2 linked regions of the Homo sapiens genome follow. The protein of the gene in region 1 binds, or shares a complex with, the protein of each later gene. Each region holds a gene or a part of one and is shown on either strand. Other genes may lie near its edges. A codon is read from its position in the direction of its gene.

Region 1 (15,915 bases):
GTCTCAGGCCAAGACCCATTGCCTAAAGGTTTTGAAATGTCTGTTTCTCGTCTTCCTTCCACTGGGGTAGATCATTGAGCACACAGGGGCCAGATGGCCTTGAAACCCCAGGATCCATACACCACAGACTACAACCCTCTGAGGAGACCAAGAGAAAATCCTCGGAGTTTAAAATCTGAAGTATTTACAGTCACATTCTCAGCATTGCATCCCTGGTTTTCTTCAAAGGGCAAAGACTGAGGTATGCACTGAAGAGAAATGAAAAGTTTCCAGTGAGGTTTGTGTAGAACCCTATTTCTGAGCTTGGCACCAGGTAGGTACATGAGCATGTACATGTGTGTATGTGCAGGTGCGTCTGGGGATACTTCAGTGTGTGCTTTAGACATCACCCCTGTATCACTGTTCTATAACACCATGACTTTGGAAGGACCCACATTCAGTCCCCAGAATGATGCAGATATAGAAGGCCCTTACACAGTCACTGGGAATCATAAAGGGGCAAAGATTTTCCTCATTCTTCGTATATTATTTTTTGAGTGTCCATTTTATGCCAGGTTCCCTGCTAGGCATTGAGGACGCCAAGACATTTTCCCATTTAGCACCTCTACCCCATCCCCTTACTAGCCTCACCTTGGCCCCTGTAGAGTAGGAGGGAGAATAAAAAACAAGGAGTAGGAGATGCCTCTCTGTCTGCCTTCCTTCCTTCCTTCCTTCTCTCCTTCCCTTGATCCTTCCCTTCCTTCCTCCCTCCTTCTTTTTCTCCCTCCTTCCATCCTCCTTCCATCCTTTGTTTCTAGCATGGATGAAGTATCTCTTTGACCTTCCCTGGCCATGGCTGGTGCTTCCCTCTTTGGTACCTTTGTCACCTTGTATGGAACCCTCTTGGTCCCCTGGGACTGCAGTCTTCAAGAGTCCAAAGGGGCCTCTCCTTCAGCTGGTCACTTATGGTCCTCCTTCAGCCTCTATCTCCAGTTGGGCCTCCACCTTTTTCTGCCAAGGTCTTTTTGAAGAAGCCCATGTGGACAGAGTCCCCTTAAAAATTGCTGGGCACAGTGGCTACTTGGGAGGCTGAAGCAGGAGAAGTTCTTGAGCCCAGGAGTTCAAGGCTACAATGTGCCATGATCACACCTGTGAATAGCCACTGCACTCCAGCCTGGGCAACATAGCAAGACCCTCATCTCTAAATTTTTTTTTCCTTTAATTCTAGGTGGTTATTCTTTTTTTTTTTTTTTTTTTGAGGTGGAGTCTCTGTTGCCCAGGCTGGAGTGCAGTGGTGTGATCTCGGCTCACTGCAACCTCTGCCTCCCAGGTTCAAGTGATTCTCCTGCTTCAGCCTCCTGAGTAGCTGGGATTACAGGCACCCACCACCATGTCTGGCTGATTTTTGTATTTTTAGTAGAAACAGGGTTTCACCATGTTGGCCAGGCTGGTCTCGAACTCCTGACCTCAAGTTATCTGCCTGCCTCAGCCTCCCAAAGTGCTGGGATTACAGATGTGAGCCACTGTGCCTGGCCCTAGGTGGTTATTCTTCTTGCAGTTTCCACATCTGGTACCTGCATGCCATATGCCATACTGGACCCTGTGATCCCTGCCCAGATCTCCCCTTAGGAATGAAGGACACATTCCCCCAGATGCTGTTGCTCAAGGTCACAGCCTTTCCCCAAGGTCAGCCAGGAACAATGACCAATCTATGGCAGGGGTAGAAAGGCCCCTTGACTCTGCCTTGGGACAACTCTGAAGGGCCATCCCAGCTTCAGATCCGGGCAGTGGGGGTCCACTTCTCTCTGATCCTGCTTCTTCTCCTTTCCTCCTCTGGGTGCTATCCCAAGAGCACTCTAATAAACCTTCCTCATGCTAATCTTCCCCCTCAGAGTCATCTTCCAGGAAACTCAATCTGCCACACACTCCCTTGCCATGATATAGGCAAGAGGGAGTGACTTCCAAATGGAAATGTCCTCTACAATAGGCCTCTTCAGCCAGCTGCTCACCAGTGGGCAGTCTCCTGTGTTCCACAAGCTCCAGGGACAGATATCAAGCTCTGTGTGTGGTCTCAGGTAAGCCCTAGTCACTGGACTTAAGAGACAGGAGCAAGGCATGTCCTCTCTCCATGGTATGGGGAGGAAAACTGATCACAATGTTGACAACTCAATCCTAGAACTCCAACTTTGAGTCCTCTTCTGTATCAATCCATGCACTTTCCTTGAGGTGGACAGTGGCTGGAGAAGGTACACAAAATCATTTTCAAGGAGCTCTTGTGTTCCGCATTTTGGAAGTGGGAGTAGCTGGCATTGATTGTCTTGGGAACTCAGTTGAAACTGAAGTAGGAAGAGTCCCATTTTAACACTTTGCTACAGGCCAAAGCAATGCCACAGAATAGGGAGGGTGTCTCTGACTACACCCCAACCGGCCCTGTCCTCTATGCCTGTCTTAGCCAGGTGCCAGAGAAAATCGGATGCTTGGGGCCCAATGTCATCATTTTTAGTGATATAGCACCTTCATTTCTACTCATGCCTTTTTCTAAGGTGGGGCTGGCATGTCCTTCTTATTGGCCATTCCTCCCACATGGGTGTTATTTTATCACCTCAGAGGTCACACTCATCAGCCCGGCAGCTGGGCCAGTCCAGGCTAGGCTTCTCTGGGTCCTAGCAGTGGACATGGCTGGGACTCCAGATTTTCTGGTTGTTCACCACCACCAAATTCTTACCACTCCTGTTGTTTAGGCTATAAGATTTTGCTCTCGATTTTCAAATTTAAAAATGTTAAGAGCATATAAATTGTACATATTTACCAAATTAAAAATTGGGGGAGGAAAAGGAATTACCATGTCAAAAGATACCTGATTTTGGAAGCCTTAAAACGTGTGTATTCAAAATCTGGGAAATGCAGTATGTACCCAACTGAACTATGTCCTCTTGGAGGGAAGGAAACCACCAGTGCCCTCTTCCACAGACTGATGTCTTATGCTTTCCCGGAGGCAGCAGAGCACATTGGCCCTGGACCAGTGACTCTTTCACCATTGGTTGAATGACAGTTACAAATGCACAACTCCCTTCAGAGGCAAAACTTCATTCCTAAGCCTAGCAATGGAAGATGTTAGTCTCCAAGTCATCAGTATACAGGTGTGAGGAATGGAGAAGCTGGGGTTCTTTAAAACTGCATCCTTCTTACCAGCAAGCACTTAGGAATTCAAGGAGGAAAAAAAGTTTGACTCTTGCCTCAAAAAAAAAAAAAAAAAAAAAAAGAAATCACAGAACTCTTTTTGAAAGATGACAAATTCTAGATTTGTGGGGTCAAAAGTCACAACATTTAAAAGAAGATACAGCACATGTCTGTGTGGAATATCTCACGACATTGGCCTAAAGCCAAACACAGGGGGCATAGTTTTCTGGACCTGGAGTTCAGTGACAGGGAGTGTGAGTATAGATTTTGTGAAGTCACAAAAGGGGCTGGTTTCGTTTGGATGGAGTAACATGCAAGTGTGAGGGAAGGAGTGACTCAGGCAAGGCTTTTCATAGAGAAAGAGTCTCTGCCAGCTTGTCCTCTCTCCCATCTCTGCTCCTTACCTCCCCTGCTCTCTCCACCCCGAAACCAACTAAATAGCCAGACAAGGGTCAGATGGGTATTACGTGAGATAAGGCATGTGGCAGGACAGAGGCCAGTGTACTTGCATGACTCTTAAAGGCCTCTTTTGCCTCACCCTGGTCCCAACTCCAATATGTGACAATGCATTGGAAGTTGTAAGGTACTAATGAGATAGCCCATCCTTCCAAGAGCTGTTCCTGTTAGATCCCATCCATTCCAACCTAATTTCCAACTGCATCCTGGAACATACTGTTACTTCGATGGGAGTACTGAGGCCATCTTTCTTCCACCAGCCCACTGCATCCCAGGTGCCTGCTCTCTGCCAGGTTTGTAAGTTCACACTTTATCTCTATCCCATCCTCCTGAGGGCACACCCTACAAAGAAAAGAGGAAGCAAGAGAATCAGATTTGTCCCTTGTCAAAACAAATAGGTGTTTCACTGGTGCCACAGCTTTTGTTCCCAAACCATCCAATACAGGGTTGGGGGGCAGGTAGGGAGATTTGCTGGGAGGTGGGCAGTTTGCTCCTATTTTAAGCAGCTTGGGAGCTTTGCCTACCGGTGTCCTCTGCTGCCCTCTGTGGCCACAACATCAGTGTCTCTAAAGACACCCCTCTGAATCCGGGGACCCAGCTCCCCATCCCCCACTCACTGCCCCAGCATCACCTTTCAAAGTTTTTCTCCTCTAGTTCTCCACAGGCTCTAAAAAGTAAAATTGGATGCACCCTAGCCACAGCCTGCATCTGGTTTACACTCTCAGCTCCTTCCTGCAAAGGTTATTGAGCTGAGTCCTGGAAGAAATCTCAGGCCACCCGGCTCTGCTCTAAGCAAGGCTGGGTGCAACCCTTTTGAGAGTTATTATAATGAGTTTTTGGTGTATCTCAGACACTGCCAAAATCCCGGACTTGGCAAGGTGCGGTGGCTTATGCGTATAATCCCAGCACTCTGGGAAGCCCAGGTGGGTGGATCACATGAGGCCAGGAGTTCCAGACCAGCCTGGCCAACATGGCAAAACTCCATCTCTACTAAAAATACAAAAATTAGCCGGGCATGGTGGTGCACATCTGTAGTCCTAGCTACTTGGGAGGCTGAGGCAGGGGAATAGCTTGAACCCGGGACGTGGAGGTTGCAGTGCGCCAAGATCGTGCCACTCCGCTCCAACCTGCGCAACAGAGTGAGATTGTCTAAAGAAAAAAAAAAAATCCCAGACTCAATGCCAGCTGTTTGTGTTAGCCTGGGGATCCTTCACTTATAGGGTGCAGTCTGGCCAAGAGGAAGGAGCTATATAACATGGTTGATGGAATTTCTAACATTTAAGCTCAGGGGTACATGTGCAGGATGTGCAGGTTTGTTACATAGGTAAATGTGTACCATGGTGGTCCACTGCACAGATCATCCCATCACCTAGGTATTAAGCCCAGCATCCGTTAGCTATTGTTCCTGATGCTCTCCCTCCTCCCACCCCTCACCCTCTGACACGCCCCAGTCTGTGCTGTTCCTCCCATGTGTCCATGTCTTCTTAGGTTGATGTGGTCTTGAGTGACCCCTCCTTGCCTTTCCTCTTTAAAAACAAGATCTAAAAGGCTATGTTCTCTATGGGTTGGAGGTGTTGCCTCGATCTGTCAAGCACAGTCCAGGACTCAGAGGCTGTTGTGGTGAACTACTGTAGGCACCTGGAAGCCACCAAGGTGCCCTTTTCCCGCACTCTAGTCCCAAGTGAGGGAAATAAGCCTATGGTTAAGGGAGAACTATCTACCAATTTGAACTCATTAAAATACATAAATGTGTCCACTAGAAATGGCTGGCTGGAGAAGCCCAGTACCAAATCACCCCGTTCCTGAAACCCACCAGCCCCATGAAATAGTTCGCTAGAGAGAGATTTGCAATCTTTGAATTCGTTGACTATCAACCTGTATAGGTGCTCCGTGCCCCGAGATCTGAGAAAATGACAAAATACGTCTACTTCCCGGCCGGGCACAGTGACTCACGCCTGTAATCCCAATACTTTGAGAGGCCAAGTTGGGCAGATCACTTGAGGTCAGGAGTTTGAGACCAGCCTGGCCAACATGGTAAAACTCCCGTCTCTACTAAAAATACAAAAATTAGCTGAGGGTGGTGGTGGGCGCCTTTAATTCCAGTTACTCCGGAGGCTGAGCCACAAGAATCGCGGGAAGCGGAGGTTGCAGTGAGTCGAGATGGGGCCACAGCACTCCAGCCTGGGCGACAGAGTGGGACTCAGTCTCAAAAAAAAAAAAAAAGTATTTCCCAATTCTTCGTCAGTTTTTGCCCTCTCCCCACTTCGCCTTCTCCAGGCTCCTGAAAAGTATCTCCCCCAACCCTTTCTGTGTACACGGGGAAAACACGTGTTCATTTTTATTATGGCGCTGAAACCTACCCTTCTCTTCAAATCGCTTCTGTAGATCGTTCTAGTATAAAATGTGGCAAGAGGCTAAAGGGAGAGATATAGACCAGTTCTTTGGCCCTCGCTTTCCAACTTCAAGTTACACCTGTGAAACTCATGGGTCCTTCCACAGCCTTCAAAAACTAAGGGCGTCCCCTGTCCTCTCCCCAGATGTCCCTTCCCCATCGCCGGTAGCGAGTGGGAGACAGCTCAGCGCGGGGCAGGGGAGCACTGGGCCCGGAGATGGAAGGCAGCGTCAAAAGCGCCGCTGGAAAATCCCTGAGCGCTAACCGTTGCCTGTGTGAGCCCTTAAATCTACAAATTTCCAACACCTGTAGCCTTTGGGTTTCCCAGGACTTCCATCGACCCTGGCGGCAGAGAGGGCAGGCCTGAGATGCAGTGACTTGAGGGCACATGGCCAACTCTTGTCACTCCAAGATCACACTGGGGAACCAGACTGACTTCTCCAATTCTGAACTCGCCCCGGCCTCGGGCGGCTCAAAGGGCCTCCTCTGCCGCATCCCCGCCAAAACCAAACCGCCTGGCACAAGCCGGTAAGCAACCACCCTGCTGGGAGAGGGAAGGAAGAGTAGGCGCAGCCCTAGATCAATTTCCTTGCACTGCTTCTCCCAGACGGTCAAGTCAGCTGCGTCCCACCGAAAAGGGCGCATCGCCCACGCCCGAAACGCAGCCGCTGGGGGCCGAGAAATTATCCCCACCTGGCCCGAGGGCCAGGGACGCAGGAGCGCAGCAGCGTGGAGGGGCTCCGCGCTGGCCCGGCGCTGCCCGCGGTCCTGCCCTCGTTCCAAGGGCACGGCGCCGGTACGAGGACACCGACGCTGTGGCGCAACTGCCGTCCCCCGCAGCAATCCCGGAGCCCGGCTCCCGGCCGCCCCTCGGCCCTGCGCAGGCTGCCTCTCCCCGACGCGGAGTCCCACCCCGCTACCCGCCGCCCAGACGACCTCATAAACAAGTCCTCGAAGTGCGGAGGCAGGAGGCGGGGCGCAGCGCGGGGGCAGGAGGCGGGCCAGGGTCAGGGCAGAGGCTGCGGCCGCGCGTCCCCATTGGCCGGGACGCAGTGAGCCGCCCGGAGCTCGGCGCGGGCGGGGCCTGCCGGCGCGTGCCCGCCCACACACCCGCGCCGGTGCCCGCCCCCCGCCCTCCGCGCCCGCCCCGTGCCCGCCCCAAGCCGGCCGACGGAGTTTTTAAAGTGGGCTGCCGGCCGCGGGAGCTTTACACTCGCGAGCGGACCGCCACACGGGTCCGGTGCCCGCTGCGCTTCCGCCCCAGCGCTCCTGAGGCGGCCGTACAATCCTCGGCAGTGTCCTGAGACTGTATGGTCAGCTCAGCCCGGCCTCCGACTCCTTCCGACTCCCAGCATTCGAGCCACTTTTTTTTTTCTTTGAAAACTCAGAAAAGTGACTCCTTTTCCAGGGAAAAAGGAACTTGGGTTCCCTTCTCTCCGTCCTCTTTTCGGGTCTGACAGCCTCCACCCACTCCTTCCCCGGACCCCGCCTCCGCGCGCAGGTTCCTCCCAGTCACCTTTCTCCACCCCCGCCCCCGCACCTAGCCCGCCGCGCGCCACCTTCCACCTGACTGCGCGGGGCGCTCGGGACCTGCGCGCACCTCGGACCTTCACCACCCGCCCGGGCCGCGGGGAGCGGACGAGGGCCACAGCCCCCCACCCGCCAGGGAGCCCAGGTGCTCGGCGTCTGAACGTCTCAAAGGGCCACAGCGACAATGACAGCTGACAAGGAGAAGAAAAGGTAAGCGGGCGTCCGGGCCGATCAGGGGGCCGGTCCGAGGCCAGGGCCGGGCTGCGCGGGGCAGGCGCGACCGAGAGTGGTTGGGAGAAGAGTGCTGAGAGGTCTTCGGAGCTCGAGGCTCGGTTTGGAGGGCTGTGAGGGGGAGAGCATGTGCCCGGTTTGGGGGCGCGGATCAGCAGCTTTGCAGTGGAGACTTCTGCGGCTCGGAGGAGTCGGGGATTTGCGCGCACGGCGAGGCCAGGAGGCCGAGGGAGATGGCCTGGAGGTCGGAGGTGCTTCCGCGGTGCCTTTGAAAATCTCCCAGCCGCCCCGCAGCAGATTACCGTGGCCACCGGCGCTTGGAAATGTTTGTGGGTGCATGTCCTCGACTTTCTCTGGTCTCTCATTTTGGGGCAGCATCCACGTCTCTATTTTTCTCTGGATTCGCGGAGTCCTTCCAAATGCGCTCCTGTGCCCGCGCCGCGGCCCAAGTGGGCAAAGGGGGGCGGGAGGCGGAGAGCGGCTCAGGGACACGATCCTACCGAGGAGCCAGGACCCTTCAGAGCGCCCCGCTGCCGGGCTCCAGACCCCACCGAAGGTTGGAGAACCCACTTCCTCGTGCCGCACCTTGACTCTGGGGAGAGTAGGTAGTGAGTGACCTGGATTGCCCTGCGGGGGCAGATGGTTCGGTGTGTAGGAAGCGGACGGCAACACTGGATGTCCCTGGCAGGTCCGGGTGTCTGTCTCCGAAGAGGACAGAGAAGGGCAGCCACGATCTGCCCGCCTGCCCTCGCGAGCCTCTCGGCACTGGGTGAGAGGCAACTCTGGCCATTTCTTGCTGCCCTCTCGCCCTCTCCCGGCCGCTCCCAGTCCAGCCGGGCCCGGCGCTACCCGAGCGAGGGTTCGAGCCCTCTGCGCGGCCGCGCAGAAGCAGGCAGGGCCTCAACTTCTGCAAATGTGTGCGGCTCGCCGCCTGTCCCCTTTCTCCTCCTGTCTCCACCCGTGCGGCCCCAGTGGCCTGGAGCTTCCAGCCCCGCGCTTGGCCGCGGCTTGGCGAGGCTATGCTGCGGGAAGCTGGAATCCAACGCGCGGCCGGCTGAACCGCCTGAGCCGCGGGAAACCAGCGGCGGAGCGGCGGTATAGAGGTGCGAGGATGAGGAGGACCGACTCGCTAAGGGAGGGAGGTGACTGGCCGGGAGGGCTCACTGCCGAGGTTGATTTGCTCTTGTTCCAACTTCCACTACGGGACTGGAGCCAGAAACCGTGTATCCTCCGGTCGAAAGCAGCGGTTCCCACCTCGGGGCACCGATAAGGATTTGATAAACGGGAGCGAATCGCGCCTGTCCTGGCTCGGCGCCCGGGCCCTTCACTGCGGGATCGCTAGGGGAGGGGATTGGGCCCTGCTCCCCTTTCCTGGCCGTAGTCCCCCCTTTCTCGTCACCGTCGCGCCCTCAGACCCAAGACAAGTGAGGGAGCCCTGAGACTGCAGCCGGCACATTCCCAGGGCCCTCGGAGCAGTCCTGGGGTTCCATGTCTTTTGAAGGCAGCAGAGCAAGGAAAAGACTCTTAAGATTCCAGTGCGTTTTGTAAAAACCAATCATAATGCTAATAATGACTGAACCATCGAAAAGCAAAGTTATAGACAGCGCCTGCAGACGCTTTCGGGTCCGGAGCCGGGGAGGGAACTTGTGTATTTTACAACTGCGATGCCTATCGGGAATGTGGCAATCGCCGAGGTGGGGCCTGACAGTAATCTTGACAAATGTGTGAAGTGTCAGCTCCTCCTGCGCTCCTTAGCGCCGGGTTTTGTGCAGTTTTGTACCGTATATACCGAGAAACTTGGGAGCAGGGGAAAAATGATTTCGACACACCCAGCTACAGTACCTGGTTCGTTAGCGGACTGTTGGAAAGAGAGAAGAAGCGGGAATGGGAGCGGGAAGAACGTTGCGTAATTAGACTCCCAATTATTGGCGAGAGCGGCCGCTTTAAGAACCACTGTGGGGACTGCCTGCGAAACGCCTTGGAGGCCGCTGTGTGAGCTGCGGCTCCGGGCTGGTGGCCACGCGAGGGTGTCCGCCCTCTTCGACCTGCCTGGATTTTTGTGCTGCAGAATGGCAGGGCAAACAGCGTGTCCTTCACCATCTAGAGCCCCTTAAGGGGTTGTCCAATTCCTATTGGGCTAATCAGTTTGAGACTCATTTACTTTTCGTGCCTGGGTCTGTTTGCTGGCTGCAGGCTTCTTTAGGGACCAAGATGTAATTAAAATATGTGAACCAATACATTGAAAGTTGGTGTTGTCATGTAAGTGACTGCTGTAGCTTTTCTGAGTGCCTCACAAGGGCGATGTGACAGTGAGGGGGCTCTCTGCTGATGATTCTGCCCACTAGTTCTTACATTTTGTGTTTCTTTGGTTTAGCAGAGCAGTTTCTTCCCCCAAATGCAATATGGGCAGAACATTTGGAATATTCGTTCTAACAATGGCCCGTCAAGAAGTGGGCAGATGATTTTGTCCCAGAATGTTCACACGTCGATAAATATGTTAATGTTTAATAATAAAGAGTTTGCTTTCTAAATGTTAGTTGGCTGGGTGTCCTTGATAGTACCAGTTTTGGTGGTAGTGGGCATTTGCGGTGACATCACAGATGTCAGAAACTGAAGCCTGGTGGGTGGGGGTACTGCACTTTCACTCACCTTTTTGTGCACGCATCTATCAGGAATGCCTGAGTCCTTTCACTGGGAAAAAAATGTGGAAATTCTGGGATTCACGGGGTTTGAGGAGTGGTTCAGGCAAATGTAAATGAGATCCTTGGATAATCAGGGATCAAAGTCCAGTCCCAAAGCCAGACCTAGGTCCAGACACCTTCCCAGAGTGCTTATACAGTAGTGCTCAGTACAGGGCTAGCGTGGAAGGGGAATTGGAGACACCTGGATCTCCAATCTCCCCCTCCTTCTGACAGCTGGACTTAGTTGTTCCTCTTCTAAAATCAAATCAAACTCCATCATTATTCCAACTCTGAAGGGAAAAAATATTGCTGGACAGTTTCTCTCAATTTAAACATATATTTTAAATAAATATTCCCTCCACACTTGATATGTTTCCATTGTATTACCAGCAGCGCAGGATGATACAGAATTGATGTAACACATTGTTGGCTTGAGTATTTAAGTTTTAATTCATACAGTTTTCATGAAGTTCAAAAGAATGCCATCATTTCAAGTTTTTTTCAGTGGTGCTTATAGGGAGCCTAGAATTATTTTATAAGAGACCATGGAAATCATCTAGTCAGACTTTTCTCTTTCTGGATAAGGAAACTGATGCCGAGAGAGGTTAAAAGACTTCTCCGGTCACAAGGAAAATTAGTGCTGATAAGAGTCAGGGCTGGTCGCGGTGGCTCATGCCTGTAATCCCAGCACTTTGGGAGGCTGAGGCTGCGGATCACCTGAGGTCAGGAGTTCAAGACCAGCCTGGTCAACATGGTGAAACCCCGTCTCTATTAAAAACACAAAAAAATTAGCCGGGCGTGGTGGTGGGTGCCTGTAATCCCAGCTATTCTGGAGGCTGAGGCAGGAGAATTGCTTGAACCCGGGAGGTAGAGGCTGCAGTGAGCGGAGATAGCGCTGCTGCACTCCAGCCTGGGCAAGAGTGAAATTCCGTCTCAAAGAAAAAAAAAAAAAAAAAAGTCAGAACCCTGGTTTATTACTTTCAATTAAGTATGTATTTTCCTATTGTTCACAGGAGAGTACCCCAGCCCTGAAATATCTCTAGATAGTGAGGATGATTTCCGAAGGAGTGCCTTCCCCATCACAACTCTCAAACCGCTGAACCTTATAGAAAGGAGATTTGCTTTTCTGGATAATTATCAACACCTTTAGGCTGCAGTAGAAGTGATGATTCTGTTTGCTTTTTGAAAAAAAAAAAAAAAGGAAGCAGAGTTGAATTGATGCTGTTCCCAGTGTCTGTAAACTTTGAGAAGTATGAATTCATTGTTTTAGTTAGAAAAAAATCTACTTATATAGGTAGACCTCATTAAACAAAACCAATGCAAGGACCGCTCCTCAGTGGAGCAGATTGCTTTTTGAGGTAGAGAACATTCAAGCAGCTGCTAGATTGATTTTTGTACTGGGTTAGTTGGCATTTTCACTAGGAGTGAAAACTGTGAGACTAAACAGTTTAATTTACTTAGAATGTCCCTCTTTCTCTCTGTGTGTGTGTGTGTGTGTGTGTGTGTGTGTGCCCGTGCGTCGGGGGGGGGGGCAGTGGTGATTCTCAACTTTCTAGGAATTTATTAAGTAAAGTGTTTAGAAATGGAAGGAAACAATTAGATAATTCTCAGTGCTCCAGGATTTTAGGCTCCTACATTTGAAAATACTTGCTGTCATTAATTGTCTTGAGATTTAGGCTTTTCCACTTTTCAGGAAATCTAGTAGTTTTTTGGGGGTTTTGTTTTGTTTTCCTTGGTTCTGCCCTATGCCAACCTGCTAGTTTCCCTTTTTATTTTAGCCTGATGAATCTTCCCTTTTGCTTTCAGTACTAACCATTGCTGGTAGTTCTTAACAGGTCTAGCTTTTACCAATATTGTCAAGTTAGCAATATTAGCTCCTGGGGCCCTAGTACTCTGTACTTCCACCCCTCTCCCCACCAGTACCATGCTGCCTGTTCACATGATGGACACCAGCTCTGATATTCACCCTAAGATATAATCCATAAGATGACAAACTTGTATTCAACACCGACTCCTACTCTGGCTAAAATGCTGAAGAGAATACTAAGAAATAGGGGATATGGTCCTGGTCATCAAGTTGCTTAGTCTGATTAGGAAAAAAAAAAAAAAAAAAAAAAAAGAGATACAAGGAAGCTTAAGTAAAAATATAAGGGGTTGGGCGTGGTAACTCATGCCTGTAATCCCAGCACTTTGAGAGGCCGAGGCAGGCAGATCACGAGGTCAGGAGTTTGAGACCAGCCTGGCCAATATGGTGAAACCCCATCTCTACTAAAAATACAAAAAATTAGCCAGGCGTGGTGGCGTATGCCTGTAGTCCCAGCTACTCAAGAGGCTGAGGCAGGAGAATCGCTTGAACCCGGGAGGCGGAGGTTGCAGTGAGCCGAGATCGTGCCACTGCACTCCAGCGTGGGTGACAGAGCGAGACAACGTCAAAGAAAGAAAGAAAAGAAAGAAAATATAAAGAGCTGACAGCCTACATGCTTTTCTGTAGAAATCTAATATTTTGAAGCAAAAGATAAGCTCTGAGTAGCATTTCAGGTAATAACCGCCCCCCTCCCCAACACACACATAAGCACACACAATTATTTAAGAGTATTATGTGTATTTAGAGGTGGAGAAATTTGTTCCTAGTGTCCCCGGAACCACACAGAGTAGGTGCTGACCACCAGCTTAAAGACTGGCTCAGAAGGAAGGTCAAATGGGAGAAGGCAGTCTTTGAGGGCTAACGAGAGGAAAGAAAACACACAAGGCTCCCTATGGTGTATCCCTTATCATGTACTTCGACACCATACACAGGAAGGCCCCTGAAATGGAATGTTTGCTGTTCTTTATACACTTGCTTTGGGTGGGGACATGGAAAGGGAGCTGGTGGGGCTCCACAGACAACAGGGGTAGTAATTTCTGTTCCCCTGAGAATATCAGTGGAGACAGCTATGACTCCAGGAAGGCCAAGAAGGGAGAGGGAGCTTCTTAACCAGGCTTTGTGAATGGGTTTCAGAGGCTGGCGTGTAAATCTCTGAAAATGTGTGCAAGACATTATGTATAGAAGCAACTTGTTCTAAAGGAAGTCTGTTCAGCTCTCCATAGCCTTTCAAAGGTTCTAGGATATGGAAAAGGCAAGCCCTTGCTCTTGGATGTCTGATTTGGTGACTGTCTTATGTTTCAGAGTCTTCCTGTTCAGATCCCAGACAGTTCTTGTGTTTTACTGCCATTGCCTCTCCCTGTGGTGAAGAATGGGGAGGAGGAAGGTGTGTGTATTTAGTAAAGGTTCTGAGGTGCCGCTTAATCTTCCCTGTCCCTGGCTGGCGTGTCCGTCCACCTACATGTCTGCCCTCAGTCTTGGAAGGACGGGAAGCCAAGTGCCCTGCACAGGGTAAATACTGGTATGATTCATTTTATTAATGCTTCTGAAAAATGACTGTGAAAACAAATTTATCCTCAAATGTTCCATCATCCTCAAACAGTTATTTGGATGACCTTCATGTTCTAGGAATGTATGTGGTCTTAATAGAAATTATATTTTGCATCAGGACAACACAAAAAACTGACAGTCTTATTTGTGCCAGTGCCGTCCTCAGAACTTTACATGGATTAACTTTTTAATCCTGTGAGATAAGCCCTGTTATTATCCCCACTTCATTGATGGGAAAGCTGAAGTCTAGAAGGGCTAACTGCCCAAGGTCGTATAGGTAGCATGGGCAGAGCTGCATTCAACCTGAGTAAAGGAGGTCCCCAGAGTCTATACTCTCAATGGGTGTTCCATACGCCCTTCCCTTACTGAAGATATCTATAAAGTATTTAATACTGCTTCTGACTCACAATAAGTGCTCTATAAATGACAACTGCCTTTGTTGTTTTCCTTGTAATTATAATTACTTTTCTTTTTTGTGATTTATCACTTGCATCAAACCTCACAAGCAGATAGGGATTGAAGATCTGAAAGGCCAACATGGAACTCCTTGAATTTCTTATTTTTCATGGGTTTTCCTAGACCCTGACAAGAGGTGGTTCTCTCCTGCCCCAAGAAATTCAAAGCTTTCCACATCCCACCCTTCGCTGGTGGCAAGACTTCAATAATTACTTCAGCCTTCGGACTCCATTGTGCAGGAGAACCTGTTAGAAGCTCTTCCTCTGTGGCTTCTGAAGAACCATCAAGATGCACAGGACTTCCTGTGGCTCTTTTGATCTTTTGAAATTGCAAGCACAGGAAGGAAAGAATGGATAGGGGGATAAAGAATAGCTATGATTGTTGTGATAATAGCATGTTGCATTTCTATAGAGCCCTTTCGCTGATGAGCCCTGAGCCTTAACAGCCATCACACTGTTGGCCCCTGCACTGTGAACCTAGAGGGTACCTTGAGTTTTTCTAGTGCTGCCAAACAGAATTGCATTGACACATACCTTAATCAAGAGAGAAGCAAGCCGTGTTGGCAACTGTGCATCACAGTCGATGTGGTGGTCATCCATGGGATGCCCCTAATAGCATCTGTAATTTTCAAGTAGATGTTGGGTGTAATTTGGTGACCCTTGTCTGTTCCCACTGTTGGAAGCCCCATAACTGATCTGATGAAAGCATAAAGTGAAGAAGAGTGGCGAGACCCTTTGTGAGATACCTGGAGCTGAAGAGTCAGGTGTGGAATGGACAAGAATGTTATCCACTTCTAAGTGACCTTGTTTTTTCTAATTTCTTAAGAAATACCTGTTTGCTTGACTGCCTTAGGCTGTTTGCAGGGGCCACTTGTACGTCAGCAAAACTCTTACTAGATGACATCACTGCCAGAAGTTCCACATGTTTCCAGGAGGCACATTTCCCACTGCCCCCACTCCCCCGAACTTGGAAAGATTCCTCAGTTTTAAAGTTATAAGTAATTTCCATGCCAGATAATGATCCTGTGAACAGATCCTTTTCTCATGTGGAAAAATATTTCAGAAAGGGTGTCTTGTCAATGAGAAAAATGACCCCATTGAAACATATGTTTATTTGCCATGTACTCATCTGACGTTTTGTGAATTCTATAAAGCCATGGAAGTGGATTGTTAGAAGTGTCTCATACACCCCTAGTGACTTCTTGAACTATCCCCCCATCCCCAGCCATGGAACTCTCCTATTAAAAAAACTAAGAGATAAGTGGTAGCAATCTTAACAAATTAGTGATTTTATCTGGTTAGGCCGTGTAATCAAACACGTGGGCAGGAAAGTGGATCCATTATGTTGTACTCATGATTGTGGTGCTGAAGGTAACCCCCATTGCCCTGTAGGCTGCCCCCAGAAGCAGGGGGTACAGCCAATAGTATTCTTAGAAGTTAATCAATTCTGTAACGGGTTGAGTGTTTTGGTCTCATTTTTAGTCCGAGGTGCCCTGATGCTGGCCTGTGACTAAGGGGAGTCAGTGGCTTGTTATGAATAAGAGGACACATGAGCTGAATCTGAGAAAGTTCAGAAGCATTTTATAAGTTGTTTAAAAT
Region 2 (15,618 bases), on another chromosome or scaffold:
ATTATAATAGCATTTTTCTAATTTTTAAGGAAACTATATGCCCTTATATGTCTTTTTAAAATATATATATACCTATCATTTACACTTAGAAATGAATTAGTCAAAAAATTAGTCAGAAATCATTTATAATAAGTCAGCTTTTGACCACTGAGTTGTTTACTGTGATCAAGAAAGCAGCAAGGCTTAAGGAGTTCTTATTCTTTTTTTTTTTTTTTTTTTTGAGACGGAGTCTCGCTCTGTCGCCCAGGCTTGAGTGCAGTGGCGCGATCTCCGCTCACTGCAAGCTCCGCCTCCCGGGTTCACGCCATTCAAGGAGTTCTTATTCTAAATGACTTTATTTCATGACAATCTGTTCTCTGTTCTCTTCTCTCTGTACTCCCTTGGCAATCTGTGGCAGGCACACGGCTTCAGCTATCCCATGCGAAGATGGCTCCTAAATTTACATTTCCAGTCATGACTTTTTTTTGGAGTTCCACACAAGTTTCCAACTGCCCTTTGAACATCCCCACCTGGATGGCCTTCCAGCATGACCTGTTTTCTTCCGTATTTGAACTAGATTTTTGTAGACCCCCAAGGTAGTGATAGTGATGTGTATGTGTGCTTTGGAAGTGGGCAGGGAAGAGACTTAAAAAGATTTAACTGTAGAACTGAAAAATACCATGTGCAGTACAGCAGGTTCTTGAATAACATTATTCTGTTCAGTGTCGTTTTGTTATAATGTTGATGAGGGATAAAGAATCAATTCCTGGCCGAGGCCAATGTCTGTGTGGAGCATGCAAGTTCTCCCCATGTCTGCGAAGTTTTCTTCAGGTGCTCCAGTTTCCTCCCACATCCCAATGTGTGCATCTTTGGGATGTGGACTGACGTATCTGTTATCTTAGTGTGAGTGAATATGGGTGTGTGTGAGTGCACCTTGCAGTAGAATGGCGTCCTGCCCAAGGCTGGCTCCCATCTCGTGCTTTGAGCTCCCAGGATAGGCCCCAGCCACCTGCAACCCTAAAACTGGACTAATGGCATAAATAATTACCTTGTTTTTATTAATCTTTCTTAAATGTGTATATAGCTCACATTTATTTCAAGGTTTACCATTAGAAGTGTTTTGGTCTTTATTTAGAAGTTTGGCAATGTTTTATGACCACAAATATGCTGTAGAAACTTAAGTTGGTTTCATTATACATTGTTTCACATAAAGTTTCCAAGAACCTATCGAGGCTATTAGTGAGGACTTACTGTACATCTTGACATGGGAGAATTGGGCATTAGGCATGAGCATGTGCCACTGCAGCAGGTGGTGGGCCGCTTACGAGTCTGGATTACCAATTTCATCTGAACTCTTGGGTGGACTATATACATGCCTTACTGGAGCAAGGAATTGAAGAAGAATACAGAAGGAAGTTGTTTTTCTCTGCCTCAGTTCATATCCTGCCTCTGCCATTTAGAGTCTCTGACCTTCGGCAATTTTTTTCTTTTCACTCCAGTTTAGTTTTCTGGTCTCTAAAATGGGGGGAGAAATTGTGCCTACCTAAGGTTTGCTGTAAAGAATGACCGAGGTAATCCATGCCTGGCCTATAAGTGATTAGTAAATGTTAGCTGTCAGCCTCTACAAAAGGCATAGTGCTATGTCAAAGCATAGTGCTTTGATAATATAGTTTAATAGGATAAATTTTCAGATAGTAAACCTTTTCCCTTCATTCAGGGTAAAAATAATAGTTCTGTAACCCATCAAAGTTTAGTTCTCTAAGCTTTGTATCCCTGTTTTAAAATAATTCAGCTCAAAAAAGAAAAATAAGTTTCCTGGTTCAGCTTCATATTGAAGCCTTCTAATGCTAGAAATAAATGTCTCTAGATTCCTCAGAGGCATTGCGGACCTCTTCCTTCCTTTTATTCTCAGAGTGAAAAACAAATTTATGCTGTTTCCTATCTTAAGAACATTCTCAATCAGCCAGGCACGGTGTCTCACGCCTGTAGTCCTAGCACTTTGGGAGGCCGAGGCAGGCAGATTGCTTGAGCCCAGGAGGGGAAGACCAGCGTGGGCAACGTCGTGAGACCTTGTCTCTGAAAACGTAAAAAAGAACATCCTTAATCATATATATTTTCATATCAGAAAAGAAAAAAATAGTATTGTTTTGTTTTGTTTATGTATAAATAGGTTTTTCTCGATGGGAAATTGAAACATTTAAAGTTGGTGTCTCTATAAGGTGGCAAATTAGGAATTTACCTCAGAATTATATAGTGGTGGATTGCATTGTTTCTTTTTCAGGCTTTCTGGTTTATAGGGTTATGTTGGTATTTTTCGTGTTATTCTTTTTACAATTATAATCATGAACTGCTGCCTTTCCTGGGGCTGGTATTGGCAAGTTAATTGGGTTGGCAGATCCATGCAGGCCCTGTGGAGCACTCATCCCCTCTCCCTTCTTCCTTTCTCCTCATTTTTCAGTATTCCTGTCACCAGAGCAGAGCACAAGGGACCTAGGGAATGCCAGATAAGACTAAAGTGGTAATGGCCACTTTTAAATAATACATTTAGATGGTGATAATTGAGCTATACTGGGAATTATAGAACTTAACACAATTACATTAAATTTATTAAAACTTTTCTTCAAAACGTGAGATTTAAAACTTTTCTTTACTCTGCCTTTTATTTTTTCAAAGAATCCTCACTTGGAATTCAAATACTGTATAGGAAACAGCTAAGCACTGCCTCTAGTTTAAGGTTGGGGTTAAAACCTGCTTGTTTGGCCTCTTCTCATATCACTTCATTCCCAATTAGTCCCCTACCCCTAGATACCTCCCTAGGGCTCCAGGGCTCTAAGGAAAGAGTTTAGAAGTGAATAATACAAACAGATCCCCGGTTGGGGGATAATCCTGGTGCCCTCAGTTTTGTTCTATTCTGGGATGTCTGGCTCATTTTGACAGTTATCGATAAACTCCTCTCCTACCCGATGCTTGTAATTAAAACTGCTCTTTCACCTAGTGTTTCCATTTTCATGTACAGTGACTCCATTCATTTACTTACCTAGGCTGAAAACCCCGTAGTCATTCTTGACTCTTCTTACTCTCCACTCATTAGCAAATCATGTTGGTTTTCTGCCTTCAGAATACACCCCACTTTGCTACTCTGGGCTCAGCCTCTTTGGTTTCTTGCCCGGAAACTTTAATAGCTAACTTAGTCTTCTCTTTTCACTCTTTGCTTCCTGCAGTCTAGTACAGTGGTTAATTCCATGGGTTCTGGAACCAGATTCCCTGTCATGTGACTTTGCGAATACTAATTAGCCTTTCTAAACCTCAGTTTAGAGGAATGAGGATGAGAACAGTGATACTGTTTACCTCACATGGTTGTGTCAGACAACTTGTTATGCACAAATTACTTAGATAGGACATGGCAAACAGTAAATGTCCCATAAATGTTAGGTGGTAAGAGATATTGAGGTTGTTGTGGTTGTTTTTATTCATACAGACTTGAAACTGATATTCTCAAAACATTAGTCAGATACATTCTCTGTTGGCTTCCTGGCCCTTCTTAGCACAATATCCAAAGGCCTTCCTGTGGCTTACCAAGCCCTGCAGCTCTAGGTTACCTGGTTCCTCTCTGATCACATTGGCCCGTGCTCGCTGTGTTCCAGCCACACTGGCCTGCTGCTCTTTCCTGCCTTGTTCAGCCTTTGAGCACTCATTTTCCCTCTGCCACATTGCTCTCTCTTCAGAGATTTGCCCAACTTGCCGCTCCCTTCATTTAAGTCTAAACCCAAATGTCAACCACTGTTCAAGAATATCATGTCATCTTTCTCTATATACCTAATTTTTTTCATATCTTAAGAAAATACAACTTTTCACTACCTAACATTACATTATATATCTGTTTATTGGCTAATTATGCTGTTAGACCAGATTTCATAGTACAATAGTCCCCTCTTATCTGAGGGCAATACCTTCCGAGACCAAGTGGATGCCTGAAACTGTGGATAGTACCAAATCCTAATATACTATATTTTTTCCTGTACATACATACCTATAATAAAGCTTAATTTATAAAGTAAGAGATTAACAACAACAGTAAAATAGGACAATTATAACAGTATGCCAGCATCGCTACTCTTGCACTTTGGAGCTGTTATTAAATAAAATAAGGTTTCCTTGAACACAAGTACCACGACGATTGCTCTGATGACCTAGAAGGCTACTAAATGACTAATGGGTGGATAGCATCTACAGTGTGGATATGCTGGACAAAGGGATGATTCATCCCAGGCAAAACGGGGCAGGACTGCAAGGTATTTCAGTGCACTACTCAGAATGGTGTGCAATTTATAAACTGTTTATTTCTGGAATTTTCTATTAAATTTTTTGGACTAAGTTGACCAAAGGTAACTGAAATCACAGAAAGCAAAACTTCTTATAAGGAGGGACTATGTAAATGAGTGCAAGGGACCTTTTCTCTTTGGTTCATCGTTTTAGCCCCAGTGCCTTTCATATACATAGTCGATGTTCAAGAGGTATTTGTTAAATGGATATATGGGATGTGATGGGGTGAGTGACTGACAAATATTTTCCCCTTCCTTCTTTACACAAGAGATGCTGAAGTTACCAGATAGTTGGAAAGGCCCAAATTAACTTTTTTGAGATGTAGAGTTCAGGTTTCCCCCTTCTTTCCCATGAATAACAATATATTGTGTAATTCATCATAATTACTTCAGTTAACCACAAATGGAGTAATTGCATTGTTAAATTAGTACCCTCTTACAGTTACTATTCAAGGTAAACTTCTTTCCTGGGTAGCTAGTGACAAGAAAATCATTTGGGCTCATCATTTATTGAGCACTTAAACCCACTAAGCCCATGCCACACTCCTGGTTGTTACCAACCTCCAGTGCTGAAAGAAGGAACTTGTTAAGTCTGTCTGGAATCAGGAAAAACAGAGACATATATAATGTTCTCCAAAAATTCTGCTGCTTATAAAGAGCAGTGAATTCAGAGTGTCTAGGGAAACAGGATTTTTAAATAAGGATTTAGGTTTAAGATGCCTCTTAGTTTCTTAGGGATGGGAAGTGAGTTTTAAAAATTAGCATTTTTCTTTTAATATGATAGTAGAACAATTCGGTTACTGTTTGATAACTTTATACTAATTCATTGACTTTATTATATGAAGAAATAAAGGACTTCAAGAATAGCTCATAACAAACCGGGTGGCGTGGTGGCTCAAGCCTGTAATTCCAGCACTTTGGGAGGCTGAGGCAGGAGGATCACTTGAGGTCAGGAGTTTAAGACCAGCTTGGCCAACATGGTGAAACCCTGTATCTACTAAAAATACAAAAATTAGCCGGGCCTGGCAGCATGCACCTGTAATCCCAGCTACTCGGGAGGCCGAGGCAGGAGAATCGCTTGAACCTGGAAGGTGGAGGCAGTGAGCTGAGATCGTGCCACTGCACTCTAGCCTGGTCAACAGAGCAAGACTCTGTAAAAAAACAAACAAAAACAAGAATAGCTCATAACCTTGAACGTCTTTGTTTGTTTTCTTCATAATTCCTGAGAATTTTTTAAAAAATACCATTACCAATTTCAGTTAATTATCATGTACACCTAGAATATGGAAGTTATTTTGTGCTTTTTATTTTGGGCCTCTTTTCTACCTTTAAGCTTAACATCCAACAGTCTTCTGAACCATATCTTGTTATAATCTGAGCAAATAATTTTCTTTCTGATTGAAAGAGGGTAAACATAAGCTAATTTGTTTAGTCCTTTTTTTAAAAAAAAATCACTGACACTAAATGAGTTAATGTTTGGAGTTTAGTTGACCTCCTAAATTATCCCTATTACAACATAGTAAGACACCATATCTACAAAAAATACAAAAATTAACCAGCCTGGTGACACGTGCTTATAGTCCTAGCTACTTAGGAGGCTGAGGTGGGAGAATCACCTGAGCCCAGGAGGTTGAGGCCGCAGTGAGCCATGATTGCATCACTGCACTCGAACCTGAGCAACAGAGCCAGACCCTGTCTCAAAAAAAAAAAAAATTGGTACCATTCAGAGACAGTGTCAGATGGGGTGTTGACTGGGTTGGTTCACCTATCAGATGGTAAAGTAGGTGTTCTGAGGTGAGCTCAAGGAAGATTGAAATCTCCCATGGAGCAGGACAAAAACGTACTTGATCTTGATTATCTGTATTTATAAAGATTGTCAAAGTAGGACCAAGAAATTTTTCTGATCTTTGGAGTTATCACTGTGAAGCAGAATTCACCAGTCCTTGTTCATCAACCTATCTTGTGTTCCCTATAAATGTTAATGTAGAATAGCCTTATCTTATCTACAAAATATTATTTTTATTAGAAGAATCTAAGTGTAAATCAGTAGCCAAAAATCAGAGATCTGATTTATTAGCTGTTCTCTCTTTTTATTTATACATGGACTTTAATAATCATTATTATCATTATTACAGGCCATGGTTGCTTGTTATCCGGGCAATGGAACGGGTTATGTACGTCATGTTGATAATCCAAATGGAGATGGAAGATGTGTGACATGTATATATTATCTTAATAAAGACTGGGATGCCAAGGTATGCAACTTAATTGAGCATTTATTTTTTTCTTACAGGTGTCTTTTTCTCAAAAGCATTAAGTTTCATACTTCTGATAAGACTGTCACAGACACAGTTAAAAATTTTCCTCTTAAATTTGTTTCAGTCTCAGGTATTAGGAGTGGATTTTTGTAAAATGAAACAAATACTACTCTATGTTATACAACATGATACCTGTAGTTAACAACGTAGTGTTGTGCACTTAAAAATTTAAGAGGGTAGACTCCATGTTCAGTGTTCTAAACACACACACATACACACACACACACACACACACACACGCACACACGAGGTTAGGGGAAGGGAAACGGAACTTTGAGAGGTGATGGATATGTTTATTACCTTGGTTGTGGTGTGTCATGAGGGTGTGCGTATATATCCAAACTCATCAAATTGTAAATGTTAAAGATATGCATTTTTGTATATCAGTTATACCTCAAAACCATATAAAAAAGTACTGATATATCTTAAAAAGTGGATTCATTTATTTTCAGATGTTAGAGCACTTATCTAAAATCTAACTTTTTTAGAAAGGTGACCTTTATTAAAATATTTTCCTTTTAATAGTTTTTAGAAAAACATTTCTGAGAACAGTTGTTTTATAATGGCTTTTGGGGGAGATTATCTATGGATAATTGTTAAGGATTATTTGCTATGTTATTCTTGGCATTTTTGTAAAAATATTATATGGCATTGAGTTGTTTAATTGAATATTGGAGGCAGGATTCAGTCTTTCCCTGATTATTAAAAAACTGGAAGTTTATCAGTACTGACAAGCCCTGTAAAACCAATTAGAATGTACAATATATTTAATCTCTCTTGTTTTAAATATATATTTCCTTAATATTAGCCTGAGTCTCATTAAATTTAAATGATTTTTAAAAAATATGTCATATATTACTACACTAGAGACTGTACAGACTAATTTTTTGGTTGATTTTTTAAAATCTTAAGTATAACATTCAAATAGAAAAGTGGCTTGTATAGTTCAGTGGATTTTCACAAAGTGAACATACCTGTGTAGCCAGGGTGCCTTTTTTTGTTGTTTTTAAGTCAAATAACCTTTAAAAAACCTCTTTCTCTGCATCCCCCAAAACACACAAATGGAAACTGCCTGAGTCTTAAATGTGCAAAAACCTAATCCTGCCCTAAAAAGTGTTTTAAGTTTAGAATATGCTCACAGTGCTTCACTAATCTTTCTAAAACACACTGATTTAAAGAGTTTTCTCTGCCCTAGTCCAGGTTCAAAATGGAGCTGACCTTTCTGCTGAGTATATATTGAGGCATGTCAACAAGCATGGTTTTTCTGTTACAGCTTTCAAAGTTTGAAGTAGAGAAATAAATTTTGTAATTGAATTTGAGCCCAAGGCACAAAACAGATGGGTGTAACTTTAGTTAAAATTTAAAAATTGACTTTTTTTCAGATTTTGTGAATAGCTAGAAAGCTAGAACTGTGTTTCATCAGCTTCTAACTTCTAGATTTTGTTAGGCTTTTTCTAGGCTGATCTTATAATTTCTATAATACTTAGTCAGGGTCATTAATGTGTAGGTTTTAAATTAGGACATAGGCAGAGAAACGTCCCTAGTGTTTTTGTGTGTAGAATAGAAATTTTCCATGCTAGATTGCACTGAATATGTAGTGTGTCAGTTGTTCTGGATGCTAGGGATGTAGCAGAAACGGAATTAGCCCTGGCAGAGCTTAGGATCTATTGGAGGATACAGATCAGAAAGATTGACAGTTACAGATAGTTATGCAAAGTGTCAAGACAGATTGCTATGGAGCACACAGGAGGGCCACCTAATTCAGAGGAGGAAGAGTGGAAGTGTCAAGTAGCCATTTCACTTAAAACATTTTCAGCAGGTCACCTGTGGTACTCCCAATGACTTGAGTCAAAGGGAAGGGAGCAGGAAAAAAGGAAAGAAGACATGTTCTCAGTTTGGAGGTTCTTTAGATGTTTGCATAGTAGCCTGGGGAATCACTCTGAACAACACTGGAACCTGAGGAAGGTTGGCAAGGGTATCAAAGTAGCTAGAATTTAACTTACCTGACAGTGAGCCTGATAAACCTTTTCTTTAACTATAGATTCTAGGTTTAGGCTCAAACGCCATGTTGTCCTGACCAGGTGTTAGAGTTTCTTTAAATTTTAAGAGTCTACCTGCTTAGGAGTGTAGTTATTCAAGAGTAAGGAGCTACTTGGTTGGTTGGGTTTTGCCTATCCCCAGATCGTAAACCCCGCAAGGACAAAGTCTGTCTGCATTATTCCCTACTCTGCACCCAGAGCCCACCACAGTTCCCAGTGCGATTTGATGCCTAGTTGGTGTTTAGGTAAATAATAATCCTTTATGGGTAGAATCAAGTTTCACAAGCAGGTAGTCATCTGTGCATCAGGCCCAGTCTGGAAAGGGAGAGCCACAGGTTCTAATGAACTATATGCTGATGGTGATGGTGACGACGACAATAATGATGGTCATAATAAATGATGACACTTTCTACTGATATACTGAATTATTTAAGTAAGAGGTATTTGTGACTATCCTATTGTTTATTGAATTTTAAAGTATGGTAAACTATTTGACATAATTTATTTCTAATAATAATTTTGTCAAAATTTCTTGAAATCTATCTATTTGAAGGGTGGGTTAAGCAAATCATTAACATACAAAAATAAACGTTTAGTAGTTTTAAAAGCTTTCAAGCATCATTTTAAGACTTTTAAATTCAGATAACATTCTTGTGTTTCATCAGATATTTATAAAAATCCCTAAAATGGCTGGGGACAGTGGCTCACACCTGTAATACCAGCACTTTGGGAGGCCGAGGTGGGCAGATCACCTGAGGTCAGGAGTTCGAGTCCAGCCTGGCCAACATGGTGAAAACCCATCTCTACTAAAAATGCAAAAATTAGCTGGACATGGTGGCGCATGCCTGTAATCCCAGCTACTCGCGATGCTGAGACAGGAGAATTGCTTGAACCTAGGAGGCGGAGGTTGCAGTGAGCTGAGATTGTGCCACTGCACTCCAGCCTGGGTGACAGCGAGACTCCATCTCAATAAATAAATAAATATCCCTAAAATAAGAACTAAATTTGTCCTTGCATCAGTGCATATACTTTTAAAATTGCAGCTCATCTTCATACTTTATTGAGACGTATTTGTGAATAATCCAATTAAGACATTGAAATTGTCTCTTTTTTTCCCCCTAAATTTAATCTTGTAGCATTTTTGGTTACTCCTGCTTACATATTTGGCTCTTTTCCTAGGTAAGTGGAGGTATACTTCGAATTTTTCCAGAAGGCAAAGCCCAGTTTGCTGACATTGAACCCAAATTTGATAGACTGCTGTTTTTCTGGTCTGACCGTCGCAACCCTCATGAAGTACAACCAGCATATGCTACAAGGTAGTATTCCTTTTCAGAAAAAATTGGTTTAGAGTATGGTAGGACAGGAGGGAATCTGTAGAGTAAACGTGAAAGCTTTCTAATGAGTATTTTCCTGCCAGGTACTTTTCACAGTCATTTTAATTTGAATAATTGTATAAGATTTATGTTGCACAGTCATCTGAATTCAAATAATTATATAAGACTCATTAACAGTTAGTACTAAATGTGTCTTTCTTTGCACAGCCACTCTGAAGAAAGGGAAGCACAGGCCTTCCCATCTTTCTAGCACTCTCTCCGTGCTTTGTGCATCTCTTAACTACTATCCATGCTTTGATTTTTGTAAGAGTATTTTACTTGGGAGAGAGAAAGATCAAGAAGGAAAAGGGTTTTTTAAAAGGTGGTGAGGGACAACATAGGAAAATGGATACAGAGTAGAAAAATCAGAGGTAACCAGAGAGTAGAAGTGAAGAGAAAAACAGAAGAAAGAAAAGTAGAGAACAGGTTACCATGTGTGGGAGTTAATGTTAGAAAAATGATCCTATTAGCTTTACAAATAATGAGCATCTGTTTCATTATACTTTTTCTACAAGGTATTTGCAACCTATTATATTTAGTGCTTTATTTCAAATGCTTTTTTAAAAACCATTTATCCTGACTCAATTAAAATGCTCTGGCTGTGAAAACAAGATATTGTAGACATTATCATGAAAGTAAATATTTGTAGAAAAATAGCACATTAAAAAAAAATACTTATTTTTTATTATGGAAAGGTCTTGGAACATTCTGATAGTGAGCTTCCGGCATTCATTTGCTGTATCTGGCTTAGGAGATGCTAGGGTGGCAAGAAGAGGCACAGGCTTAGATGCGCTGGGTGGAGAGTTGGCTTTAGTAATGATGGTTGACTCTAACGACTTGATTATCAGCTGTGCCTTTTTTCTTCCTGCCTTCTGAGGTGTGTTGCCTGCATCCTAATTCACGTACTGAGTAGCAAGCTAAGCAGGTTGTAGCTGGAGATTGTAAGAAATCCTGAATGGAAACCAAAGAAAGACTGTCACATCACATGATGTGCCCTTTTCAATCCCATGTCTCTTCCCAGTGGCATCCCAGTGCTGTCTCTGCCCCCTGCTGCTTCTGTAAAGATTTTCTGACACAGTAACTGCCTCATAGACCTTCCTTTTTATGAAATCCTGAGTTTGGTTTGGTTACGTCCTTTTTAGATGAATAAATAACAGATACTTGGGAGTTTATAGTAAATAAATGCCAGATGGCATGGAGGCTAAGTGCTACAGGAGTTGAGGAACGAAGGTGGTGCTACATTGGAGAGACGGGCAAGTGCGCTTTGAAGGGAGAGGCTCAGCTGGCCTAGGTGAGGAGAGGCAAGGGGTGCAGTCGTGTTAGTAAAGTTCTGGGGGAAAAGGCGTAGTTGTTCAAGTTAAGGCATGGAAAATCATGCGACGAAAAGGATTCTTGAAGTAGAATCCTATTCTGATCTTATCTAGAATGGGTGATAAGGCTGGAAAGTTAGAATGACATAAGGTAAGTTGTTGATCCAGATATTAGAATTCTGATTGCTAAGTGACTAAAAGTTTAGGGCATGGGCAAAAGATACATAAAATTATGTATCTGAGCCCTTTCCTATTTCCAAGGCCACCCAAAAGTAGAAGAAGCCACATGGTAAGAAAGGTAGTGGAACTCTGGAAAGAGCAGAGTCTGGTCTGGAAGTCAGGAGACCTCCTTAGACCTCAGCTCTGTGATTCACCAGTGGTGGGGTCTGTAAACGTCAGGCTCCCAGTTGTCCAAACTCCCAGACTCTTTACTTCAAAATACATTATGTGATTTTTCATTCTGTCATATTACTGGCTGTATGTCTGATAAATGTTGCCTTTTCCCCTGTGTCCACTGGCCACAATCCACAATATATTTGAACTAATTGCTATATTCTGCCCAGGAACTGGTGATTTGTAGCGTACTTTCACTTCCTATAGCGTTTATACATTTTCCCCATTATTTGTATCAGAAAGTATGTCTTTTGTAGTATTTAATAAACTAGAGATGCCTCACTTATTGGTGGAATGAAATATTCTAAGTCAGATTTTCAGAAAAATGAAGTTTAGACAAAGTTTAAACACAAAACACAGTATAATTGCTTTGATTAAAATCCTTAAAAATTCTTAGCATAATTTAACTGTCAAGGTTATAATTGTAAACATCCATCATTACTCTTTGCTATAATGTAGTGATGTCCCCAGAGACTGTTGAAACTGTTAGCCTGCAATGCCCTGAGTCCTTTTATCTGTTTCTTTTCTGTTCTTTTAGTACTTGTGCTATTGATAATGTGCTTTTTCTGTAACAGCCATTCTTTTACCCTTTTATTGTCTCTCTTTTTTTTTAGAGGGAGGCTCACTCTGTCACCTAGGCTGGAGTGCAGTGGCATGATCTCGGCTCACTGCAACCTCCGCCTCCCCGGGTTCAAGCGATTCTCCTGCCTCTCAGCCTCCTGAGTAGCTAGGGCTACAGGCATGTGCCACCATGCACGGCTAATTTTTTTTTTCTTTTTTTTAGTAGAGATGGGGTTTCACCCTATTGGCCAGGTTGGTCTCGAAGTCCTGACTTCATGATCCACCCACTTCGGCCTCCCGAAGTGCTGGGATTACAGGCGTGAGCCACTGTGCCCGGCCTATTGTCTCTTTCTGATCTGCAGTTCCCTTGCAAAAAATAAGTAGTTGAAATAAGTATTAAGAAAGTCACAAAAACTCATCAACTTCAGACATCAATTTTAGTCTCCCCTGGTTACTGTATAAATAAGCTGTTAAATTTATCCTTTGATATCATTCCAGTTTAGGCATAATTTTGGCATTACAAGTTTTAATATACCATTGCAGCAAAATACCACTTTTTCCCCGCAGTGTGATCATTCTTATCCTATTCTAAATTTTCTTTTAGGTACGCAATAACTGTTTGGTATTTTGATGCAGATGAGAGAGCACGAGCTAAAGTAAAATATCTAACAGGTAAACGTCATTTGGGGCCAGGATATATTGGTACAGAAATACCCTGCAATCAGGTGATGCTTTCAGGAAACTCAAGCATAGTCTTTGTTAACACCATGAATACTTACTTTTTGTTTTTTATCAGATTTCTTATTTGCCTCATTTTTTAAGAAGACATAAGTCATCTTCACTGTTATCTTTAACCAAAAAAATTGTCAAAGGATGTGGAAAATTTGAGGCAAAGAAGTCTGAGTAAATTATTCACATACAAACTGAGTTTTCTGTGATTATCCTTTTCAGTCAAAGGCCACTTAACTCTAGGTAACGGCCATATGGTTTCCTCTCATTCACTCCTTAAATTAATACCCTTTCCTTTTCAAATGGATGTGCTCTAAACAGTACTCTAGGTCTTCCATGTTAAATGTAGACATGAAGAAAATTAATACAAAGAATTATGAATTCAAATGCCAAAATCAGTAAATGACACAGACATGTAGATTCCATATCTGCTAATGGTGTACATAGGTCAGCACTCTTGTACTGAACCTGAAGATCCTTTAATTATGCCAGTTCCCCTTCTCTTCCACTTATGGACTGCCTCTCCAAGAGCAGGGGGTCTGTTTCCCATCTGATGGACCACTTACCTTCTTTTCTTTAACTCTACTTTCTATCTCCAAAAATCCACTGAGTATTCACATTACTGATTAGCTGTGTTTTCCAGAGCCATTGCTAATCGCACGTCGACCTTACATAAAAATGGAATATTCATGCATTTTCTATGTATTTTTAAAGCCATTATTTGTGGCACAAGCTCAGTGTGCTTTCAGAGACACTGAACACTCTGTTGAAGAAACTCAAATGGCTTTTAAAATAAAAAGACAAAATCATTATCTCTGTGTAGAGGATGGTTTTATCCTTGAAGGTTTACTATTTGAAACCTCATCACAATAGAATGCTGAGGGAAGTTTTTGGAAGTACAAGCGTGATAGTTCTCAGATGATGTTTGCAAAGTTGAAATATTGTCCATACTCTTAGGAATTCAGTGGAATGCAGTAGCAGAAGCTCTCTGGTGCTTAGTGAATGAATGAAAATTTTTTTTTTTTTTACCTTGCAGGTGAAAAAGGTGTGAGGGTTGAACTCAATAAACCTTCAGATTCGGTCGGTAAAGACGTCTTCTAGAGCCTTTGATCCAGCAATACCCCACTTCACCTACAATATTGTTAACTATTTGTTAACTTGTGAATACGAATAAATGGGATAAAGAAAAATAGACAACCAGTTCGCATTTTAATAAGGAAACAGAAACAACTTTTTGTGTTGCATCAAACAGAAGATTTTGACTGCTGTGACTTTGTACTGCATGATCAACTTCAAATCTGTGATTGCTTACAGGAGGAAGATAAGCTACTAATTGAAAATGGTTTTTACATCTGGATATGAAATAAGTGCCCTGTGTAGAATTTTTTTCATTCTTATATTTTGCCAGATCTGTTATCTAGCTGAGTTCATTTCATCTCTCCCTTTTTTATATCAAGTTTGAATTTGGGATAATTTTTCTATATTAGGTACAATTTATCTAAACTGAATTGAGAAAAAATTACAGTATTATTCCTCAAAATAACATCAATCTATTTTTGTAAACCTGTTCATACTATTAAATTTTGCCCTAAAAGACCTCTTAATAATGATTGTTGCCAGTGACTGATGATTAATTTTATTTTACTTAAAATAAGAAAAGGAGCACTTTAATTACAACTGAAAAATCAGATTGTTTTGTAGTCCTTCCTTACACTAATTTGAACTGTTAAAGATTGCTGCTTTTTTTTTGACATTGTCAATAACGAAACCTAATTGTAAAACAGTCACCATTTACTACCAATAACTTTTAGTTAATGTTTTACAAGGAAAAAGACACAAGAAGAGTTTAAATTTTTTTGTTTTGTTTTGTTTTTTTGAGACAGTCTTGCTCTGTTACCCAGGCTGGAGGGGAGTGGTGCATTCTTGGCTCACTGCAACCTCCGCCTCCCAGGTTCAAGCAATCCTCCCACCTCAGCCTCCCAACTAGCTGGGACTGCAGGCACACACCACCATGCCTGACTAATTTTTGTATGTTTAGTAGAGACGGGGTTTTGCCATGTTGCCTAGGCTGGGGTTTAAGTTAAATTTTTTAAAAAACTAAAGTGACTGGCACTAAGTGAACTTGAGATTATCCTCAGCTTCAAGTTCCTAAGATAAGGGCTTTCTTAAGCTTTCAGGTGTATGTATCCTCTAGATGTAGACAATAATGTCCCATTTCTAAGTCTTTTCCTTTTGCTTCTCCTTAAATTGATTGTACTTCCAAATTTGCTGTTATGTTTTTTTCCTAATACTGTGATCTATCTGATCTGCAGACAAGAACCTTGTCTCTGTTGAAGAGCATCAAGGGGAGATTATGTACACATTGAAACTGAAGTGTGGTGTTACTGACGGAATGTGCAGTAACTCCTCAGATATCTGTTAAGGCATTTCCCAGATGTGATGCCAGCCTTCTTACCTGTACTGAAAGATGCTTAGCTTAGAAAAAAACAAAACAGATGCAAAATCAGATAATTTTATTTTGTTTCATGGGTTTTCTTATTTACTTTTTAAACAAGGAAGGAATATTAGAAAATCACACAAGGCCTCACATACAT

What was found.
Region 2: the proteins of EPAS1 (region 1) and EGLN1 are in contact, whole or in part, in a crystal structure (PDB 7Q5X), measured with the Homo sapiens proteins. Residues at the interface, in NP_001421.2 of Homo sapiens: Asp525, Leu526, Glu527, Thr528, Leu529, Ala530, Pro531, Tyr532, Ile533, Pro534, Met535, Asp536, Gly537, Glu538, Asp539, Phe540, Gln541, Leu542; in NP_071334.1 of Homo sapiens: Gln239, Leu240, Val241, Ser242, Lys244, Ile251, Arg252, Trp258, Asp277, Ile280, Arg281, Ile292, Asn293, Gly294, Arg295, Thr296, Lys297, Tyr310 (codon at 6,473), Val311 (codon at 6,476), Arg312 (codon at 6,479), His313 (codon at 6,482), Val314 (codon at 6,485), Asp315 (codon at 6,488), Pro317 (codon at 6,494), Asn318 (codon at 6,497), Asp320 (codon at 6,503), Arg322 (codon at 6,509), Arg370 (codon at 9,934), Trp389, Tyr390.

What each region holds. Positions count from the first base shown.
Region 1 is NC_000002.12:46,290,191-46,306,105, forward strand, and holds the start of EPAS1 (endothelial PAS domain-containing protein 1), read left to right. Parts: upstream 1-7,216; 5' UTR 7,217-7,721; coding exon 7,722-7,747; intron 7,748-15,915.
Region 2 is NC_000001.11:231,364,918-231,380,535, reverse strand, and holds part of EGLN1 (egl nine homolog 1), read left to right. Parts: intron 1-6,436; coding exon 6,437-6,556; intron 6,557-9,837; coding exon 9,838-9,974; intron 9,975-10,692; exon of another isoform or gene 10,693-10,982; intron 10,983-12,899; coding exon 12,900-12,967; exon of another isoform or gene 12,968-12,969; intron 12,970-14,060; coding exon 14,061-14,125; 3' UTR 14,126-15,618. UniProt on the Homo sapiens protein: Cellular oxygen sensor that catalyzes, under normoxic conditions, the post-translational formation of 4-hydroxyproline in hypoxia-inducible factor (HIF) alpha proteins.